Linked DNA regions of Homo sapiens: region 1 is linked to region 2. The links come from fine-mapping of genetic effects on gene expression. Tissue or cell type: monocytes. Region 2 holds a variant in brackets; the other region holds the start of a gene. All regions are shown on one strand. Distances are between the middles of the regions.

The links. PIP is the estimated chance that this variant, and not a neighbour inherited with it, causes the effect. A credible set is the group of variants that fine-mapping cannot tell apart.
Region 1: it holds the start of CTBS, and the variant in region 2 is the best candidate, but not a certain one, in a credible set for the expression of CTBS in monocytes (TOPMed, PIP 0.81).

Annotation. Positions count from the first base shown.
Region 1 is chr1:84,573,154-84,575,962 of GRCh38, reverse strand. It overlaps CTBS (chitobiase), which reads left to right and starts at 1,523. Exons shown (of 7, transcript NM_004388.3): 1 at 1,523-1,724. The coding sequence starts at 1,548. RefSeq lists a silencer at 1,391-1,510 and enhancers at 1,671-1,960, 2,071-2,170.
Region 2 is chr1:84,613,200-84,615,860 of GRCh38, reverse strand. The region is part of intron 2 of LINC01461 (long intergenic non-protein coding RNA 1461); the gene reads left to right. Among named protein-coding and RNA genes, the nearest start is that of LINC01461, 6.5 kb to the left of the region's middle. The variant A/T (reference allele first, on the strand shown) is at 1,042.

The DNA of each region.
Region 1 (2,809 bases), 40 kb after region 2:
GATTACAGGTGTCTGCCACCATGCCCAGATAATTTTTGTATTTTTAGTAGAGATGGGGTTTCACAATGTTGGCCAGGCTGGTCTCAAACTCCTGAGCTCAAGTGATCTGCCCACCTCGGCCTCCCACAGTGCCGGGATTACAAGCATGAACCACTGTGCCCAGCCCAAATTACTTATTTCTTCTTATTTGTACTACGCTGCTTCTCAAGCACCTTTAAGAATTATTTATTTCATCCCCTCTGTACTGCGTTTTCCAATTTTCTTATCTTTCAGAGTTTTTGCTCTACATTCCTCAGTGTTATCTTCTACTAATAGTTTTTTCACTTCTTTCTTATTTCTATTAACTTTTAAAAATCCCCTACCCCTTTTATTGCACCCTGTTGTGGCTTCATCTTCTCTTATTTTTCTGGGGCTATTATGAGAATTTTTAAAAGTGTTCTCCCTGCAGCATCTGCTTCCTCCATATTCCTTTGTCTGTTGTTTGGGTCCCTTCTTTCTACATTATTGGATTTTTTTGGTTGCTGTCCATGATTAAAAGTAAAAATTAAAAAGTACAAAGAGAGGAAGCTCCAAGTAGATAGCTGGTGCTTTTAACTTTGAATTTCACTGTAGGGTGATCTGGGTGTATGATTTGTCCAGAAAACCCGATGTCAGTATCTTTGCTCAGCCTCTTAGGTTAATCAGATAGCGAGGGGTTTCAGTTTTCAGTAGGCATAAAGCCACTTATTCTCCGTTTTAGGTGGAATACCCACTCAGCAGAGAATTTATCCCCTTCAGGGAATTCAGCCGGGGTGGGAGCCCGTGGTGGGAAAGAGGGGCAGCTGCCCAGAGACATGAAGCTGGAAAAAGGATCTAGCGATCAGAGTCCTTGAGCAGCCTTTGACTAATCTCCCCCTTTTCCGATTTACCTCTCATACTCATACTTGTGCTCTCCAGCTTCCAACATTTTGTTGCTGTTATCTCTTTGTCCTTGTGTTTAGGTTGTTAAACTTGATTTTTAACAGGAGAGTAGGCAAAATTAGATGCTTGAATTCAAACCACGATCTTAACTAAGACCTGATATCCGTAAGTAAAAATTTTTGGTATTCCAGCTTTCTTTTGAGTAGCAAAAGAAAAACAAAGTCTTTTGGCCACTCCAACCATGTTACTCAGTAGGCCCTTCCAAAGACACCCACTTCTCCATTTTGGGGATCCCCTTGTACCTTCAGACTCCACAAGGAGTACACGACCAGCCACGACAAAACGAGATGCAGACTATTGGGAGGACTATAAACGGTAGGGGTGATACCCATTTGAGTCCACGAACGGCCCTCTCGGCGCCGCAGACACTGGCTGTCCCCCGAGACGCTCCAGCAGCCACTTAACTTCACCCACCTGTAGCGCCCGGGGACGCTCGAAGCCCGACCTCCCACGCCCGCCCCGGAGCCCCGCCCCTCCCGCCCCTCCCCGCCCTTCCCGACTCTCCCCGCCCCTTCCTGCCCCGACGCGCAGCAGGCCCCGCCCACCCAGGCGGTAGGAACCCACTCCGGCCCGCTAGACCTGCTGCTATGTCCCGGCCGCAGCTTCGACGCTGGCGCCTCGTCTCTAGCCCGCCGAGCGGCGTCCCGGGTCTAGCGCTGCTGGCGCTGCTGGCGCTGCTGGCGCTGCGGCTCGCGGCCGGGACCGACTGCCCATGCCCGGAGCCTGAGCTCTGCCGCCCGATTCGCCACCATCCAGATTTCGAGGTCAGCGCCTTCCTCTGCTCCTCTAGGTCTGGGCTTCAGGGCACGAAGAGAAGTTAGGGTAGAACGGAGCCCTAAGGAGAGGTGCCGTGGGCGCCGAAACCAGCTTTGACCACTCGATGAGGGCCTTCCTGTTTACGGATCCTTCAATTTATAGATGAGGAAGCTCGGGCTCAGAGAAGTTGAGTAACTCCTCAGGCCTCACAGCCTGTAAGTGCCTGCGTAGGCAGGCGAGAGTTCAAACCAGATCTGCCTCCTAAGGCAAGCTCCTTTCATTCCCCTGCTGTGCCTCTGCGGAAGCACTCTGGGTGTAAAAAGCAAACAAGGTAGGATAATCCATTTATGTTTCCAAGGAACGAGGATTTCGTTTGAAAGAATCTCAGCACTCCAACAGTACATTAGAATGCAGAGTATTTTGCTTACCTTTAGTTTTCTATACCTGCTAGCCCTTTCCTTTAAAGTACCTCAAAACCACCCATGAAGAGTGGTAAAAAAAATAGCTTTCAGTACATTTTCCTTCTATCTACATAACAATTTGTAAGGCTTCTGGCAACTTTAATCAAACACCTTCTGGAGCAATATTAAAACCACCTGACTGCCCACTTCGATGACTGAAAGCAGGAATTGGATGACATCAGGAAGGTCCAAAGGCTTAATTCAAAGAACGATTCTTTTGTAGAAATAGGCATGATTCCTAGTTCTTAATCTAGTACATTAATCTGAGGCAGAACACTTAGATGCCAGTAAAAAAGTATATATACATGACTTAGGAGAAGAAATAAAAATGGTGAAAGTGTTTATGGAGAACCTGCCTAGTGTGGAAACCTAACATCTTATTAAAAGAAAGACTTCAGACAAAGTAGGATAACCTTTTTTATTTGAGCAAAGAACAACTTATGAATCGGCAGTACTTAAACCAGAAGGGGTTCAGAGAGGTCTGCTTTAGTAGCATGGGCTTTTATAGGCCGAACAGGGAAGCAAAGGAAAATAATTACTTGGTTGGCTATGACTGTTTGCCTTATTTAGCTATGACTTGGTGGAAAATTACTAGTTAGAGGTTAGTTGGCAGTTTCTGATAGGTTAAGCTT
Region 2 (2,661 bases):
GGTTTTCATTTGCATTTCCCTAATGATTACTGATGTTGAGCATTTTTTCATATACATATATATATATATATATATGTATGTATGTCTTCTTTTGAGAAATGTCTACTCAGGTCTTATTCCCATTTTCGATTGGATTATATGGGCTTTTTTTTTTCTTTTGCTATTGAGTTGTTTGAATTTCTTACATATTCTGTTTCTTTTTTCTTTCTTTTTTTTTTTTGAGATGAAGTCTCACTCTTTTCACCCAGGCTGGAGTGCAGTGGTGTGATCTTGGCTCACTGCAACCTCTGTCTCCTGGGTTCAAGCAATTCTCCTACCTCAGCCTCCCAAGTAGCTGGGATTACAGGTGCCCACCACCATACCCACCTAGTTTTTGCATTTTTAGTAGAGACGGGTTTTCACCACATTGGGCAGGCTGGTCTCGATCTCCTAACCTCAGGTGATCCACCCACCTCGGCCTCCCAAAGTGCTAGAATTGAATTTCTTACATATTCTGAATATTAACCCATTACACCAGTGCATAGTTTGCAGACATTTTTTTCCAATTTTGTAGGTTGCCTCTTTGTTGATGGTTTCCTTTGCTGTGCATAAGCTTTACAGTTTAATGTAATCCCATTTGTCTATTTTTGCTTTTGTTGCCTGTGCTTTCGAGGTTTTTTCCAAAAAATTCTTGCCCAGACCAATGTCATGAAGCATTTCTCCTATGTTGTACTCTAGTAGTTTTATAGTTTTAGGTCTTCCGTTTACATCTTCATTCCATTTTGAGTTGATTTTTGTATATGGTGAGAAATAGGTGTCTAGTTTCATTCTTCTGCATGTGGATATCCAGCTTCCCCAGCACCATTTATTGAAGAAACTGTCATTTTGGGGTAACTGCTTTCTAACAGGTCTCTGGGGTTTGGTATTACTGCGCCAGAACCCTTTCATATAGCTGTCAGAGAGATGGCAGTGGAACAGCTCAGTTTATATCTCTCTGCTCTTTAAACCTATCTGATGATTCTTCATTGCCAGTAGGATAAAGTCCAAACACCTTGGCTTGTC[A/T]TATCAAGTCCTTTCCCATCTGGTGCCCATCATCCCAGCTACCTCCTCTGATACTCTCTACCATGCATCCTATGATTGCCTCCCAATTTTACATTCTCTTCATCTTCCTGATTAAAATAGTGATTGCTGATTACATGTCCTCTCTTTTGCAGTTAGATGTGGCCAGGTGACAAAGTTCTGTACAGTGGAATGTAAACAGAAGTATCATGTGAGAGTTTCCAAGAACTTTTTCAGGAGGGAGGAAACACATGTCCTTTGCCCTCCCTTTTTGTTTGCTGCCTTCTCCATCCTATAGCCTGGAATACAGACATGATGGCTACCATCTTGGACTATGAACATGAGGATCACACCCAAGGGAAGGAGAGGCAGCAAGCTGGAAGGTACTATGGAGCAGAACTGCCACAGCCTGAGTACCTACCTCTGGAACTTTCTGTGAGAAATGAAATGGGCCCAACAGTTCCATAAACAGTTGTTTTGGGATAAACATAGAAATGGCCCCTAGCTTGAAATTTGCATTTGTTTTATCTGAGTTCCCTCCTCAGGAAAGGACCTTCAGGCCTCTCAAAAAAGTATCAAGAGAACTGACACCAGATGCCTCCTTGCCCCTCCCTAGTTCCTGTTTTCTTAAACATTGTTACATATCTTCCCTGCTATGTAAGCCCCTAGATTTAGTCAGTCAGGGAGATGGATTTGAGACTGAGCTCTCATAACTTGGCTGCAGCACCCGATTAAAGCCTTCTTCCTTGGCAATACTTATTGTCTCAGTGATTGGCTTTCTGTGCGTCAGTACCTAGACTGAACCCCTGGTGTTTCCATAACTTGGTCAAGCCACTGTTATTCTGAGTATCTGTCCCTTGCTGCTGTGCCTAATCCTAATTGACACAGAATTTGGTACCAGATCTGGGATGCTACAGGTCACTCCATGCTTATGTTTTTCTTTCTTTATGTTCATAAGAATTCAAGAAGCTAGCCAACCCCACTATCTTTGAATTATTCACTCTTGCCATGAAGATTTATTACCATAGCCACTTGGCCTTCCAGCGTTTTGATTTCCATGGATACTTTTTCTCCCAGGTGACTACAAGTGACAATGTATTTATTTTGAGATGGATTTTCACTCTTCTTGCCCAGGCTGGAGTGCAATGGTGCGATCTTGGCTCACTGCAACTTCTGGCTCCTGGGTTCGAGAGATTCTCCTGCCTCAGCCTCCTGAGTAGCTGGGATTACAGGCATCTGCAACCACTCCTGGCTAATTTTTGTATTTTTAGTAGAGACGGGGTTTCAGCATGTTGGCCAGGCTGGTCTCAAATTCCTGACCTCAGGTGATCCACCCTCCTCGGCCTCCCAAAGTGCTGGGATTACAGGCATGAACCACCATGCCTGGCCTACAAGTGATAATTTAAATAACTGTTCTGCCACTGCATACCACAGACTGGTAGGCCTTCCAAAGTAGATCTGTTTGGCAGAATCACATCCAGAACCATAGCTTCAAGGAATTCTGGAAACGTGGCTTTATTTCTAGATCTGTAGAACAGGCAGAACACTGGGAACAGATGTTGAGTGAGTCGATCCAGAGTGTCTGGTAAACATGTCTCAATCCAGCCTCATGAGATAAGTCAT